Regions from separate parts of the Homo sapiens genome. Here regions 2, 3 and 4 are each linked to region 1. Evidence: fine-mapped expression QTL. A gene starts in region 1. Each other region holds a variant in brackets. All regions are shown on one strand. Distances are from middle to middle. Region 1 holds the start of ABCC4 (ATP binding cassette subfamily C member 4 (PEL blood group)). Region 2 overlaps ABCC4 (ATP binding cassette subfamily C member 4 (PEL blood group)). Region 3 has its middle 39 kb from the start of ABCC4. Region 4 overlaps ABCC4 (ATP binding cassette subfamily C member 4 (PEL blood group)).

Region 1 (4,162 bases):
TCCTTCCCTTCCATCAGGGAAACCGGAAATGAACACCTACTCAAGTCATCAATGGGAGCGCATCACTTCCTATTTCCCTGCCACCTACATTTTGAAAATGCAGGGGGAGAAAAATATAAGGAGGCAGGAGTCACATCTGTAATCCCAGACTTTGGGTGGCCGAAGCGGGAGGAACACTTGAGCCCAGGAGTTCAAGACCAGCCTGAGCAACAACATAGAGAGCCCTATCTCTACAAAAAAAATTTTTTTTTATTATCCGGGCATGGTGACACACACCTGGAGCCCCAGCTACTCGGGAGGCTGAGGCAGGAGGATTGCTTCGGCCCAGGAGTTGGAGGCTGCAGCAAGCTATGAATGTGTCACTGCCCTCCAGCCTGGGTCACAGCTTGCACAAAGCAAGATCCTGTCTCAAAAAAAAAAAAAAAAAGTTCCTTGCCCTGCCTGAAGTTGAGGAGACCATTTGTCTACCTCAAGTTATTATTTGCAGAAACCACACCCATATTCCTTCCTCCTCCACGTGCCCCTCTCCTTAAGAGAAAGGCCGCCAAACAACCAAGAGAAGTTCCTACACCCACTGAGTGTACCACAATCGAAACAAGAGTAAGCGACTCATCCTCTTGGAATCCCCTAGGTCAAGCTTGTCCAACCTGAGGCCCATGGGCTGCCAAATTCGTAAGCTTTCTTAAAACATCAGATTTTTTTTTGCGATTTTTTTTTAGCTCATCAGCTATCATTAGTGTTAGTGTATGATTAGTGTTAGTGTATTTTATGTATGGCCCAAGACAATTCTTCCAGTGTGGCCCAGGGAACCCAAAAAATTGGAGACCCCCACCCTAGGTTGTCCCATAATAAAAGGCAATATCAACATGTGGGAAAGATGAGGCGGCAGAGGTCAAGAAACAGAAGATCTAATAATCATCCAAGTGAGATTGAAGCCCTTCAAAGGTTCAGGCTTATGTAGTTAGCAGACGGAATTCCCCCACACACACCCGCCACTCCCCCAAGACGGAGTCTCACTCTGTCACCCAGGCTGGAGTACAGTGGGGCGATCTCAGCTCACTGCAACCTCCGCCTACTGGGTTCAAGCAATTCCCCTGCCTCAGCCTCCTGAGTAGCTGGGATTACAGGCGTGCTCCACCACACCCGGCTAATTTTTGTATTTTTAGTAGAGACGGGGTTTCACCATGTCAGCCAGGCTGGTCTCGAACTCCTGACCTCGTGATCCACCCACCTCTGCCTCCCAAAGTGCAGGGATACAGGCGTGAGCCACCGCGCCAGGCCAAGATGGAAATTTTAGTTACTACTGTCACCCGAGTCTTTCTCCGTTTGTTTCCTTGCACAAAATGGGTAGGGCTGTGGGCCCTCCCAGCTCAGGAGCCCTGGGGTGGTTTTAAGAAGGTAGAACTCCTGGTAGGAACCACCTGCATCAAGACCATGGATCACCTCTCTGAAGGTTAGCGATTCCAGGGACCCCACCTCCGAGCTGTCCTCCTACGTGGAAGTGAAAGTATTGGAAACAGGGGAAAGAAGCTGGTCAAAGACAGACTCCAGTCGTGGCGGTGCATGTCCCAGTTAAAAGCAAATCCTGGAAAATCTTGTTCAAGAACAGGGTCCCCATTCATAAATGAAAAATAATAATAGTGTTATTTTACCCACATGAAACTTGCCATAACTAGGTACCACGACCCACATGGACACACAGTGAGATTCCCACAAAGAGGCAAAAGGAGAGCCCTGGTCACTGAGACAAAAGATACAGAGACACCGGGACACAGAGAGGTACAACGGGACGTGGAGTTGGATCGAGCTGTCTCGTAAGGAATATCGGAAGGGGTGGGGACACTACTGGGAGATGGCATAGGTCCAGGACACTAATTAGGCTTTGGCTGAGATCAGATAAAGGAAACTGTTCGTAAGCTGCTTACTTAAAAAGAAAGGAAAAGGTGCGTTTGAGTTCAGGAGACTGCGAGTCCCAGAGCAGGAGGCGGGAGCCAGCGAAGGGTGGGCGTGTAAGGGGTGCAGTCGCTTCTCCCGCTGGGCAAGAGACTCCCCCTTTCGGCAGCCTGGGTTCCCCGCCTCCCCACCTCCTGCTCCTCCTCCCCCGAGCCCTAAGGGCCCGCAGGGCCTCCAGTAGCAAAGCCACTGGCCCCGCGTCCCCGCGTCCCCCTGCGCCGCGCCCCGGGGCGCAGGCAGGGACCACGCGGCCGGCGTGGGGGCGGCGCCACCCGCAGCAGAAAGCCCCGGCGTGGACCGCGTGGCGTAGGAAAGCGCTCCCCTCGCCCCCAGCCGCAGAGGGCTTGGGCAGCATCGGGCGCGGCCCCGGGAGAGTGCGTCCGCGGCGCCAGCGGCTGCAGGGTGACCTGTTTCGGGCGGGGACACTCACCAGAAGAACACGCGTGAGCAGAGGTTCGCGTCCTGCAGCGGGTTGGGCTTCACCTCCTGGTACACGGGCAGCATCTTGCCGGGCGGGGCGGGCGCGGGCCGGGGTCGCGCTGATCAGGCGGCGGTGGCCGCGGGCTCCGCTCCTGGACCTCAAGCAGGGATGCTGGGGCTCCGGCCGCCACGCCTGTCCGCTCGGCTGGAGCCTGTGAAGCAGCCGCTTCCGGGAGCCGGGCGCCGGCGGCACGCCCCGTCCCCGCCTCTCAGGCCCGCCGCCTCGGGGGCGCCCGCTACGCGCCGCCGCCTGGAGCCCGGGAGCTGCGCACCGCGTGCGAGCGCGGCCGGGACCGACGGGTGACGCGGCGGGAGGAGACGCGGCGGGAGGAGGCGAAGCTGGCGACGCCAAAGGGAGCCCAGAGCTACGCCCAGGGGTGAGGCGAGGGCCGCCTGCGCCGCTGGATGGAGAGGGTAGCAGAGCGCGCGGCAAGGAGGCCGGGTCCGGAGGTGCCCACGTGCACGAACCCGAGTGAAACTTTCCGAAATTCACTATCCGAGTCTAGGCGCCGACACAGAAGGTGGAGCAGGGAGGCGTCGGCTGTGCCCGCCCCTGCGCCGCAGAAACGCCCCCTCGGCTACGGGTTTGGGAAGACTGGGAGACAGCTGCCTCGTGCTCTAGCAGCCCGCCCCCTGGGCGCCTTTCCCTTCTCAGGACCAAACGACGGTGCCATGGGAGGCTCTTCAACCTGTGAGCCAAACATTTGACCTTGGACGACAGCAAAGTTTAGCCACAGATTATCCTTGTAGAGCTGCAAGACCTCAAGAAAGCCGGGTAACTCGAGAGTATGACCCAGATGAATTCGGGAGATGGATGAATGCTGTCGTCGATGGGGGCGGGCTTTAGGCATCTCACATGTTGCATGCTACGGTGGACCTCTGAGCTTTTTGCTGCCCCCTTAGATTGGGAAAGGAATATAAGAGGAAAGAGAGACTGCCTGATGATTTCTGTCGTCAAGCCCTAAAGCCTAACAGATAACAGTGGCAAACGACACGTGGGTTCCAGAATACCAGTGATGTTCATGTGCATTTCTGAGTGCGTAGCCTCACTAGTGTGTGTGTGTGTGTGTGTGTGTGGCAGTCTCACACACAGTGTCACGATTATGGCTCATTGCACCCTCGACCTCCCAGGGCTCAAGCAATCCTCCCAACTCAGTTTAAGTAGCTAGGACTACAGGCACCCGCCACCACACCCGGCTCATATTTTGTAATTTTTGTAGAGATGCAAAAATCAAAATCAAAGGCTCCAAGTTCAAATACTGATAATTTTTGAAGCCAAATGATTGTCATGGAGGTTTATTTTCTTCATATTTCATGCATGTTTGAGAATTTGGTTTTCTTTGTAATAAGATCATTTTATTGTTCCTTGATAATTTCTCACTTTGTTGCCCAGGCTGGTCTCAAACTCCTAGGCTCAAGTGATCCTCCCACCGTGGCCTCCCAAAGTGCTAGGATTACAGGCATGTACCACCACGCCCGACCAATTATCTCACTTTTAATTCTATCAGTGCCCCATTCAAGGTTATCCTTACTTTATAGATGAGGAAGGTGAAGCTGAAAGGCAGAACTTGTCCAGTCTTAGAGCCAAGAAAGGATAAAACATGATTTGCAATAAGCCTATGTCTAAGCATGGCCTGTCTCCCTGGTGGATGGCCAGTGTGCATGAGAAGTGCCCAGAATATGCTGGTTGAATGGCTGTAGGAATGAATGAACAAAATCTTGTTCCAAG
Region 2 (4,162 bases), 25 kb before region 1:
CCTGGAGGAGCAGATCATTGAAAATACAGCAAAGTTAAAATTAAACGCAACAAGGCCAGGTGCATTGCCTTCTGTTCCATGGGGACTATTTGTCCTAAGACTTTGACTGAGCACCATGGACCCTCCTGCTCTGTCAAATGCCTCTTCCTGCTGGCTCCAGGTTTACACTACTGATATGGCTCTGTGTCCCCACCCAAATCTCATCTTGTAGCTCCCACAGTTCCCACATGTTGTGGGAGGGATCCAATGGGAGATAATTGAATCATGGGGGCGGGTCTTTCCTGTGCTGTTCTTGTGATAGTGGATAAGTCTCACGAGATCTGATGGGTTTTTTTTTTGGTTTGTTTTTTTTTTTTTTTTTTTGAGACGGAGTCTTGCTGTTGCCCAGGCTGGAATGCAGTGGCGCGATCTAGGCTCACTGCAGGCTCCGCCCCCCGGGGTTCACGCGATATCTGATGCTTTTAAAAATAAGAGTTTGCCTGCACAAGCTCTCTCTTTGCCTGCTGCCATCCACGTGACTTTCTCCTCCGTGCCTTCTGTCATGATTGTGAGGTCTCCCCAGCCACATGGAACTGTAAGTCCACTAAACCTCTTCTTTTGTAAATTGCCCAGTCTCAGGTATGTCTTTATCAGCAGCGTGAAAACAGACTCATACAACTAACAAGCCTGCTTTAGCTTTTCACTGTTCTGCCCAAGCAACTTTCCCCTTCAGCCAGGCCAGTAGATTTCTCATACAGCAGGGTGACCCTGTTCAGGGCCTTTGTACTGTTTATATTTTTTACTTTGTGCATACTATGATGTCTTGACGTTTTGGAAACCTCTCTGGCTGGGGAGAGACTGTCCTTCCCAGAGCTGGCCAGTTCTTAGAACCAGAAGGGCCCAGCCAGGAGCACAGCTCTGATATGCAAACCAACCAACCCAGAGCTATGCCGTCTTTATCTAGCCTGTCCACCCCAGGAAGCAGTATTTCTTCACCTATATCATGCCAGAGCCTGATAACAAGCAACTAGAAACCATGCCTGTAGCTTACAGCCTGCCAAAATTATTCAAACTAGCCAATTCTAAACTGTTCACATGCACTCCCCTGCCCTGTCCCTGAAAGCTCAAGAAAGACCATGGCCCAGGCTCTCCCCTCACTCCTGCCCCTTCAGGCTCCTACAGGGGGGACCAAGACTGATGCTTCCCCATGTGGCCCTGCAGGGCATGACATGCTTCCCGTCTCTAAGACCTGTGAGTATAATAACCTTGGCCTTCCTGAGCACCTCCTCTGCCTCCTCCTGTGGCCACATCTCACTGACCATCACAAAAAACAACATAGAATAAGCCAGGCATGGTGGCTTATGCCTGTAATCCCAGCACTTTGGGAGGCCGAGGCAGGCGGATCACTTGACGTCAGGAGTTCGAGACCAGCCTGGCCAACATGGTACAACCCTGTCTCTACTAAAAACACAAAAATTAGCCAGGTGTGGTGGTGGGTGCCTGTAATCCCAGCTACTCAGGAGGCTGAAGCAGGATAATCACTTGAACCCGGGAGGCAGAGGTTGCAGTGAGCCGAGATTGTGCCACTGCACTCCAGCCTGGGCAACAGAGCAAGACTCCGTCTCAAAAAATAAAATAAAACAGGTTTTCATTTTAATTTTTAACATATAAACCTCCACAGGAACATTCTGACACAGACTTCAGCCCCAGGCCTACATCACCCTATGATCCAAATTATTTTATAGTAAATGGTATGAAGTTTGGAGAGGAAGGGCAATTTGGCCATCATGCTGTGATTTTACTGCAGGTAAAGTAGAATCACCATGAAAGTGGTGGAGCCTTGCTTTTTCTTTAATTTTTATAATGCCACCACCCTACATTCTTAGGAGAAAAGGCAAGGAGTTAAATAAATAAGCACAGATTTAAGTTCACATTTCTGGTAATTATCCGCAAGCTAATAACTGAGATTGCTTAAGCTCTGTAAACAAAACACACAAAGCCCTTGTGGCTCTGCGCCAGAATCAAAGGTCTGATCCAAAACTCCCCCATCCCCTTGTTGGCTTTGAACATGAAACCAATTTTCTACACCAAATCAGGCCTACTTCTTTGTAACCATCCTTACCATCTCTCTTATAGGAAAATGTTTAGGACTCTTGGCGGTGACTCTAGAACTAGGAAATCAACTCTCTCAGCAGCACTCTAATGAGCAAAAACAACTGTGCCTCAAAATACAGGCTGCAGTGGGCAGAAATCTCTGTACTGCACTCCAGCCTGGGTGACAGAGTAAGTTTCTGTCT[C/CAAAA]AAAAAAAAAAAAAAATCAAGTAACAAAGAACAGCTGTCTAAAACTGTTAACACTGATTCAAAATATAATAACCTTTATGCCTGTTATTCAGAGTTAAAGTGGGTACGCTAATTATAAATCATACACTTTTCTAATTGTGCAATACTCTGTCAATGGGATAGATTTTAGGAAAATTCCAGCTGAACCAGTCCATTCTTTGAATCATTAGGTCAATTACAAACATGCCAATCCTTAGCCTGAATAGCTGCATATTTAGAAAGACCTAAAACATTCTTCAAAAAGCTGCCATACATGGTCTGTTAAAGGGCTTACTTGGTAGGAAATAAATCAAGAGGGAATACTCCATAGTGAATCTCAGGGCACTTTTTAAAACAAATCTCAGGGCTGAGCACAATGGTTCATGCCTATAATCTCACTGCTTTGAGGGGCCAAGGCAGGAGGATTGCTCAAGCCCAGGAGTTTGAGACCAGCCTGGGCAACATGGCAAGACCTAGTCCCTACAAAAAAATTGTTTTATTAGCTAGGCATGGTGGAACACGCCTGTGGTCCCAGCTATTCCAGAGGCTGAAGTGGGAGGATCACTTAAGCCCAGGAAGTCAAGGCTGCAGTGAGCCATGATCTCACCACTGCACTCGAGCCTGGGAGACAGTACAGGACCCATCTCCAAAAAAAAAAAAAAAAAAAGTGAACGAAGCTGCAATAAGCTGTGATCATACCACTGCACACTAGCCTAGGCGACAGAGTGAGACCCTGCCTCAAAAAAAAAAAAAGAAAAAAAGAAAAAACCAATTGATAAAAGAGTAACCTCCCAATCCCCAGCTGTGGAACCCAAGAGCAGAGAAGGCAGCCACCCGCCTCTCTTTCCCTCAAAGACACCAGAGTGCAATAGGCTCTTCCTCACTCATTCCCATGGGAAGTAGCCTTCAACCCCTCTCAAACCACAGCATATAGAGATGCCTTTATTAATAAAAAAGGATACAACCCACGGGCCAGCCGCAGTGGCTCACGCCTGTAATCCCAACACTTTGGGAAGCCAAGGCAGGCAGATCACCTGAGGCCAGGAGTCCGAGACCAGCCTGGCCAACATGGTGAAACTCTGTCTCTACTAAAAGCACAAACATTAACCGAGTGTGGTGGCACACGCCTGTAGTCCCAGCTACTTAGGAGGCTGAGGCAGGAGAATCGCTTGAATCCGGGAGGCAAAAGTTGGAGTTAGCCGAAGTCGCACCACTGCACTCCAGACTGGGCGACAGAGCGAGACTCAGTCTCAAAAATAAATAAATACAATAAATAAATAAACAAAGTATACAACCCACAACTCACTTTTTTTTCTAACCAGGAATCTCAACAACAGGACTATAGGGAAACAAGAATTATTAACCTCATTAATTCAAATTAACTCTTAAGCACCCACCACTAACAGGCACTCTTATAGGTTCTAGACCTAGGATCATTTTTACAGAGTTCACATTGGGGAAGGGAGAGGGGAGAGGGAAAGGCAATCACACTAAAAAGAGGGGGTCAGAGTAACAGTAAGATCCACACAGAAGGCCAGGCACAGTGGCTCACACCTATAATCCAAGCACTTTGGGAGGCCAAGGAGGGTGGATCACCTGAGTTCAGGAGTTCGAGACCAGCCTGGCCAACATGGTGAAACCTTGTCTCTACCAAAAATACAAAAATTAGCCGGGCATGGTGGCGGGCGCCTGTAATCTCAGTTATTTGGGAGCCTGAGGCAGGAGGATCGCCTGAACCCAGGAGGTGGAGGTTGCAGTGAGCTGGGACCATGCCATTGCACTCCAGCCTAGGCAACAAGAGTGAGACTTCTCAAAAAAAAAAAAAAAATCCACAAAGAAAGTAGGGAGCCATGGTAGTGAATGGGGGC
Region 3 (4,162 bases), 40 kb after region 1:
AATTTTAAAGAAACATAAATCACACAAAAAAGAAGATAATTTTTTTTTTTTTGAGATAGAGTTTCGCTCTTGTCGCCCAGGCTGGAGTTCAATGGTACAATCTCAGCTCACTGCCACCTCCGCCTCCTGGGTTCAAGTGATTCTCCAGCCTCAGCCTCCCGAGTAGCTGGGATTACAGGTGCCCGCCACCGCGCCCAGCTAATTTTTGTATTTTTAGTAGAGACGGGGTTTCGCCATGTTGGCCAGGCTGGTCTCAAACTCCTGACCTCAGGTGATTCACCCACCTCGGTCTCCCAAAGTGCTCAGATTACGGCATGAGCCACCACGCCCAGCTGAGAAATTAAAAAAAAAAGAAAGAAAGAAAGAAAAAGAAGACTATAGAGTACCTGAAGTCTTCAGGCGTCTGGATTTATTATGAGATAGATTTTGGTTAAAGGGCAAGGATGCCTGCATATGCTTTAGAGGCAAGGTCATGGGTCTCGTGCTGCAGGGACATAGACTTTTCCATTGAAGGAACTCTCAGAGTTCAAATCCCCTAAACCCATCCTCTTTCCCTGTCTTGGCCTGATGCCTGGTGATCATAACAGTGTCTCTTTGCTGTTTCAGTCCTCCACTCTGTTCCAGAGGAACCACACAGAAAAACAGTTCCCCAAACTATAAAAGTCGTAAGACTCATTCTTTGAATAAACTGTTTAGATTTGCCGTCAGGCATGGACACCTGGCTAATATTCATTTGGAACTCTGAGTTCTAGAAGTGTTCTCATTCTTCATATAACCCATCTACAAGCCTCAACCAAAGAAGAATCATAGTAATAACACCAGGAAATTAAAGTCAAGCAAACCCTATAAACAGTTCTAATATATTTGTGCACACGCTAAGTTCCCCAGCATTGCTGTAAATTTGTCCTCTTTGCTGATTAAATGATGCAAAAATTTAGAGCTCCTCTTTTAATCGTCAACGCCATTTCCTTTCTTATCCCATCAGAACTGGGTGATTTAACCTGAGCCCTTTGGTTTTTCTTTTTTTAAATATTAACCTGTATTGTCCCCCAACAATGTGAATTTGCTTCCTGCTCAATATGTCTATTACTGACTAATGATGCTTTAAAATTCTTCCTCCTGTGGATTGATTCAGATCCAACTAACTTTTACTAAATTCATAGAATACAGCGACAGTGCTTGGCTTTCTTAGGTGTGAAATTTCAGTTAATCCCAAACATAATTCTGTGAGGTGGGAGATATCATCCGAATTTATAGGAAAAGAATCTGAGGCTCAGAGAAGGTCCCTGATTTGCTGAGGCCACACATGTTTTCAGTGACAGTAATAGAGCTGGGCATACACCTGCATTGTTTGATTCAAAGCCAGTCATCTTGGCTTTTCACCAGCCAATAGGCCGTTCACTGTCCAGATGTGGCTATATTACCTTGGTGATGGTCAGTTTCATATGAGACCAAGCTAACATTAACATCAGAGGGTACTATCACATTTGGGATTAAGTTAAAAAAGAAATCAGAGGGTAAATTTGTTGAGGGTTTTTTTTTCTTTTTTCTTTTTTCTTTTTTTTGGGGGGGGGAGGCGGTGGGGGAAAGAGCTTGCTCTGTTGCCCAGGCTGGAGTGCAGTGGTACAATCTTGGCTGACTGCCTCCTCCACCTCCCAGGCTCAAGAGATTCTTATGCTTCAGCCTCCTGAGTAGTTGGGATTATAGGCAAGCACCACCAAGCTCAGCTAATTTTTTTGTATTTTTAGTAGAGACAGGGTTTCACTATGTTCTCCAGGCTGGTCTTGAACTCCTGGCCTCAAGTGATCGTCTCACCTCAGTCTCCCAAAGTGCTGGGATTACAGGCGTGAGCCACCACGCCCTACCGATTGAGGAGCTTTGTCAGCGAAACCCGAAACAAGATGCGGAGAAAATGGAGACACAGGTAAGAGGGGTGCAGGATACCTGTCCTGGGTTCCTGGGGCAGGGAGGTTTGGCAGGAATAGGATTGGAAATAAAGAAAGAAACAAATAACCCCTAGTCATCATTCTGCTGCATTGAGCCTCCCCAGAATGTTG[C/T]CCAGATAGGCCCTTGTTGCTTATGTATGATTTGGACCTCCCTTCTACCCACACAGTCCTGTGAAGCTTCACATCTGCTGGCCTGGGCCTAACACACATAAGCCCATCTCTCCCAGTTCCCCTGTGTTAATCCACCCTTGCATTCCAGAAGCTGAACTCCAAGTTGAAGATGAATACTTTGTGCCCTGTAACCCAGATTGTCTAGATTTATATTCGTATCTTCTTTTACAGCTGGACCACCCTGGGAAATTTACTTATGTTTGCTGAAATTGGTTTCTCATCTGTAATATGGATACAAAAAGTAGTACCTAACTCATAGGGTTATTGTTTGTTTGTTTATTTGTTTGTTTGTTTTAATGAGACAGAGTCTTGCCCTGTCGCCCAGGCTGCAGTGCAGTGGCATGCGATCTCAGCTCACTACAATCTCTGCCTCCTGGTTTCAAAGGATTCTCCTGCCTCAGCCTCCCGAGTAGCTGGGTTTACGGGTGCCCGCCACCACACGCGGCTAATTTTTGTATTTTCAGTAGAGATGGGGTTTCACCATATTGGCCAGGCTCATCTTGAACTCCTCACCTTGTGATCCGCCTGCCTTGGCCTCCCAGAGTGCTGGGATTACAGGCGAGTCACTGCGCCCAGTCTCACAGGATTATTGTTTATGTGACAGTGTTTATTACAATTCCTGGAACATAGATGTTTAATGAGAAGAAGCTATTATGGCAAGATAATTTATCAAAATATTAAATTCAGTCGTTCCTATATCTCCACCCTACCTCTCCAACTGCAAATAAAATAAGTGGATAGCTAGATTGCAATTTCTTTTTTTTTTTTTTTTTTTTTGAGACAGAGTCTCCCTCTGTCACCCAGGCTGGAGTGCAGTGGTGCGATTTCAGCTCACTGCAACCTCTGCTTCCCGGGTTCAAGCAATTGTCCTGCCTCAGCCTCCCCAGTAGCTAGGATTACAGGCATGTGCCACCATGCCTGGCTAATTTTTTGTATTTTTAGTAGAGACAGGGTTTCACCATCTTGGCCATGGCTGGTTTCAAACTCTTGACCTCAAGTGATCTGCCTGCCTCGGCCTCCCAAAGTGCCAGGATTACAGGCATGAGCCACCGGGCCTGGCCGCAATTTCTTAATTCAGGAATTTTGGCACCAGAAAAAGGGAGGAGGAAGAGGTCTGTGAAAACCAGAACATACCAAAATCCCCACACAAGCATTCCAAACATCTAGAGCTGTGGCTCCCAAATGGGGGTGATTTGCACCCCCAGGGGACATTCGGCAATGCTTGGAGGCATTTCTGATTGTCACTACTGTGGGGAGGGTGCTGCTGGTATGTAGTAGGTACCGATTGGGGATACTGCTAAATATGTAACAATGCACAGGACAGCCCCTCAAATGTCAGCAGCACTGAAGTTGAGACACCCTGATCTAGGGCCTTGAGGCTAACTTGCTTGGCTGACAGGTGAGAAACTTGAGTAGGATGTGAGATTGAAGTTGTAAGTGAACAGAGCTGAGCCTTATGAACTGAAAAAAATATAGAATCACTTTGAGAATTCATTAAGGGAAAGAGGATAACATAGACCAGTTTGGGGATAACAAAGATCATAGGCAGCGTTTAGGGGGAAAAAACACTTTATGTATTTACCCCAAAGTGCACAAATCTTAGTATTGTAGCTGTTGATGAAATTATTTTGGCTGGGTGCGGTGGCTCACGCCTGTAATTCCTACACTTTGGAAGGTCAAAGCAGAAAGATGGCTTGAGACCAGGAGTTCGAGACCAGCCTGGGCAACATAGCGAGACCCCCATCTCTAAAAATAAAAATTAATTAATTAAAATTTATAAAGAAATTATTTTATCAGGCAGGGTTACTTTCCTTTTGCATCTCATTTTTTTTTTCAGTAAAAACTCTGTATATATTTCTTGTGCTGCTTTTCTGCAGGATATAAAAGAAGTCATTGGTGCCCATGTTCTTATCCAGAATGTATGGTGGCAATAACAATCAGGAAGAGAAAGTGGACCTTCTCTTTCCTTTGACACCCTTGGAAAATCCGAGTTGCAATTTGCTGTGTTCTACATACAAGATAAGGCAACAGGCTTCCTTGGAAAA
Region 4 (4,162 bases), 250 kb before region 1:
CAAATAAAACAACACCAAACTGTTTTGGACAACAGGAAGAAAATTAAAATGAGAACCAGGGAAATTTTATTTTTGGTTTTCATCATCATCAGTATACACATTATAGCATATCCACATCCTCAATGATCTCCTGGGTGGTGAACAAAGTTAGTTAAACCGCTAAGCTCCTCTTAATTTCCTGCAATGCTGTAAAGGTACATATACACATACTGAGGCTAACAGACTAAAGATAATTACATTTTATCAATTACCTCTTGTAAGGCATTCCACAGTTCCTCATCCGTGTGCTCATTAAAGGGATCCAGGTTTTTCCTCATTGTTCCAGTGAACAAAACAGGTTCCTAAGTGCCCAAAATAGTCACGGTCATTACCACAGACTCTTTTTTCATTTTATTCCAATGCTAACATCAACAATAGAATTAAGATACCAAAAAATAAAATTCATGATAATAATTATAGCGTTACAAATGCCTGTTTACAAAACAACATATCTATTAATGTTCCACTGTACAAAGCGTGCTCCAAAATACCTTCCAGACCACTGAACACTAACAAAACTGTTGCAATGTGCTATCTTAAGAAGAAAATGAAAAATACAGGCCTGATGTTTAAAACTGTTTTCCTCATATTATTAGCTTAACATGAAATATAAGGATATAATTATTCGAGGGTCTACATGAATAGAGCTATAGAAATTAACTATCAATCATGTAATACTGGAAAATACCGACAGCATGATTAAAGTTTGTGCTTCAAAGCCAAATTATTAAGCATTTTCCAATTTGCACTAAAGAATAAATTAGGATTATTTTCTCCGTTGGCAAAACAGTTTTCCAAGATTAAGAATCTCTCACCGGGCGCAGTGGCTCACGCATGTAATCTTAGTATTTTGGGAGGTCGAGGCGGGTGGATCACCTGAGGTCAGGAGTTCTAGACCAGCCCGACCAACATAGTGAAACCCTGTCTCTACTAAAAATACAAAAATTAGCTGGGCATGGTGGCACATGCCTGTAATCCCAGCTACTTAGGAGGCTGAGGCAAGAGAATCGCTTGAATCCAGGAGGTGGAGGTTGCAGTGAGCCGAGATCGTGCCATTGCACTCCAGCCTGGGCAACAAGAGCAAAACTCCTTCTCAAAAAAAAAAAAAAAAATCTCTCCAATGTCAGAATGGGACATCCTTTTTTTTTTTTTTTTTTTTTTTTTTTTTTTTTTTTTTTTTTGGCCAAAGGAGATCTAAACAACTGGGGCCAGAGGCACCTCTACTTATGAAAGGATTGCCTCTGATTTTGCATCAGTGAATCCCCACATTATCTCATCTGTGCATCAAGGTTACCTGGGTCACAGAACCTCATTATTAACTAAGAAAGCAGGGTTACCTGAAAACCACTGTGAAGGAGGTCATAATAAAATTACATCAATTTAAATAGCTGTTCCTATTCATCTGCTTCAGGAGGATCCCACAATTAAATCACTCTTGGAATATCAGCCTCTTCCTGGATTTCAAGAGAGACTCTTGAACATAAGCTTAGGTAGGCTGTGTGAAAGTTTTCTTCTGGTAGCTGGGTGCGGTGGCGGGCACCTGTAGTCCCAGCTACTTGGGAGGCTGAGGCAGGAGAATCACTTTGACCTGGGAGGCAGAGGTTGCAGTGAGCCAAGATTCCGTCACTGCACTCCAGCCTGGGCCACAGAGCAAGTCTCCATCT[TA/T]AAAAAAAAAACAACAAAAAAACAAAAACACAAACTTTTCTTCTGGAAGGCTCTAATAAGCCAGGCCATAAGGATATAGGAGCCCCATCAACTGCTTTCAAGGATAGGGGCAGAACAAGGGGATGCACAGATGTGGGAACAAGAGAAGGTGAGACTCTTCCACAGGTACTGGAGAAATGCTCAAGGGAACCACTGGCCTCAAATCTCACCTGGCTTTGGGGCAGGACTGTTCCTCCTCACTTCCCAAAAGCCTGAGAAGAGAGATAAAGGTGGTAGACTTCTTTTTTCTCCAGCCATAAAGAAAAATGATATCCAGGGAGGCTCTCATCCCTTTCCCTATCGTCTCCGTTTTAAGGCTGGTGAGGAAGAAATGGATGTAGAAGGCAGACAGGGTGCCACCAAAAACATAAGTCCTCAGCAAAATGCAAAAATGGAAACGACGGTAAAATGGGCACTTTGTGTGTATAAAGCTGATAAAGTGGCCAATATCCTTCCAAAAGCACTGAAAAGTCACTGGTCACATGATGTTTCTGAATTACCAAATGGAACTGAAAAATTCCAAGAGTCACAGGTAAGGTCTGTCTTAAAAGTACCCAACTGAAGACCAAAACCTGAACAACCATCTAAACAATGGTGGGAATTTCTTGTGAGGGGAATAACCATCATTCTGGTTATTTCAGATTAAAAGATAAAAACTTGACTTACTCTTTGTAATTATCAACTCTAAAATTCCAACCTCTGCAGGCAGAACATTTCAGAGTAGAGATTTATGGTAAACATACAATCTTCATGTAAAATGTAAAAGATTTAGTAGCCTAAGTACATATTTATTGATGGTATATATTTTAAAATGTCATTTAGTACGAGTTTTAACCTCCATTGTTAGCAAAACCAATGTTCTGTTCAACGTATTATTTTAAATGAAGCACCAGATCAAACCTGTTTTTCATTAGGGTTTAAAGGTCATACTTTTTAAAAATCTTTGCGCCATACTGAGTAGTAATTTTGTCCTCATTACTCACATAAGACAAGCTGATATTAAACATGTGACCAGGCTGGGTGTGGTGGCTCATGCCTGTAATCCCAGCACTTTGGGAGGCCGAGGCAGGTGGTTCACTGGTGGTCAGAAGTTCAAGACCAGCCTGGCCAACATGGTGAAATCCCATCTCTACTAAAAATACAAAAAGTAGCCAGGCAGGGTGGGGTGCGCCTGTAATTCCAGCTACTCGGGAGGCTGAGACAGGAGAATCACTTGAACCCAGGAGGTGGAGGTTGAAGTGAGCCAAGATAGCACCACTGCACTGCAGCCTGGGAGACAGAGCAAGACTGTCTCAAAACAACAGCAACAACAGCAAAAAAAAAACCCACCACGTGACCTAAAAATGGCCGCTCTGAATCAAAGCATTTAGTGCAGTAAATTGATAATCCCTCAGCAGGACTGCAAGACTGAAAATTACAGTCTTCCTAGAGCTTTCATATAAACTTCTGGAAGACAAGCCTCTCATTATCTCAAGAAGAAACTCTATCCACCAACCTTCAGACACTTAAAACGACCTGGGACCAAGACAAAAATCGCATGGGGAGTTACAAACCAGCAGGACAAAGCACAATACTTTACCCTAATCTTGTCCCAAACCAGGAAACTTCGCTCTCTTAAAATATACACTGCACAGTAGCTAGCCACAACTGCTGCTGCCTGATGTCCTCAGAGCTATGTGTGCATTTCAAATCCTGAAGACCTTGATTCAGGGCAGCTCATCTCCCTGTGTCAAGAATCAGGGAATCACCTGAAGTCACTTTAAATCTTGGTTTCCCTTCTTTTTTAAAAAAACCCTGTAGCCTCTGAATGAACTGATCATCATCCATTTTCAGAAGAAAAGAACATTGTTCACCAACAAAGGAAAAAGAATTTAAGTCGTGTAAAGTCTTCTTTAGATACAAAAAGGTCACCAGCTCCAGGGAGCAGTTCCATGGCCTTAATGAAGACTTCAGTGTGCAGAAACAAAGGACTGACTGCATTAGGCCAGAATCCAATTGTATTTCTTTACTAGTAACTGCATACCTACCTCTTTTCCCTTTGAATTTTGTTCTCAAAAAGAAGAAAAAAAAAAAAAAAGGAAAGAAAATCAGGTAATAAAAAAAGAAGTCTTAAAGAGACACACTCTGGTTAACCTTTTCAACTTACTGAAGAAAATTCAGGGAGTAGAAATACCAAGATAGCAGAAGTCTGAGCAGTGGGCTGCTTAAAAACTACTTAGCTTTTGCTTTGATAGAAAAACAAAAAAGTCCATCAAATATGAAAAATGAATCTGTTTAATCCTAACAAAGATTATAGCTGTTGATGTATGCCAACCGTTAGGGTGCTATCATAAATGTTGAATTTGCATGAAGTTACTCTTTAGTTGAAAACATTTATTTGTGCCAGTAGGATTGGAGGAGTAAATAATCCATCCTAAAA

The links. PIP is the estimated chance that this variant, and not a neighbour inherited with it, causes the effect.
Region 2: its variant is the best candidate, but not a certain one, in a credible set for the expression of ABCC4 in whole blood (INTERVAL, PIP 0.89).
Region 3: its variant is the best candidate, but not a certain one, in a credible set for the expression of ABCC4 in gastroesophageal junction (GTEx, PIP 0.67).
Region 4: its variant is the best candidate, but not a certain one, in a credible set for the expression of ABCC4 in whole blood (INTERVAL, PIP 0.51).

The regions. Positions count from the first base shown.
Region 1 is chr13:95,298,858-95,303,019 of GRCh38, forward strand. ABCC4 (ATP binding cassette subfamily C member 4 (PEL blood group)) reads right to left here and starts at 2,594. Exons shown (of 31, transcript NM_005845.5): 1 at 2,384-2,594. The coding sequence starts at 2,457. LOC102724149 (a long non-coding RNA gene) reads left to right here and starts at 2,094. Exons shown (of 3, transcript XR_429273.4): 1 at 2,094-2,406; 2 at 3,089-3,469. RefSeq lists enhancers at 877-936, 2,539-3,313 and silencers at 2,130-2,769, 2,800-2,859, 3,040-3,099.
Region 2 is chr13:95,273,473-95,277,634 of GRCh38, forward strand. The region is part of intron 1 of ABCC4 (ATP binding cassette subfamily C member 4 (PEL blood group)); the gene reads right to left. Among named protein-coding and RNA genes, the nearest start is that of ABCC4, 26 kb to the right of the region's middle. RefSeq lists a silencer at 1,112-1,211. The variant C/CAAAA (reference allele first, on the strand shown) is at 2,277.
Region 3 is chr13:95,338,398-95,342,559 of GRCh38, forward strand. No RefSeq gene overlaps it. Among named protein-coding and RNA genes, the nearest start is that of ABCC4, 39 kb to the left of the region's middle. The variant C/T (reference allele first, on the strand shown) is at 2,058.
Region 4 is chr13:95,052,844-95,057,005 of GRCh38, forward strand. ABCC4 (ATP binding cassette subfamily C member 4 (PEL blood group)) reads right to left here. Exons shown (of 31, transcript NM_005845.5): 27 at 252-341. Among named protein-coding and RNA genes, the nearest start is that of LINC00557, 95 kb to the left of the region's middle. The variant TA/T (reference allele first, on the strand shown) is at 1,704.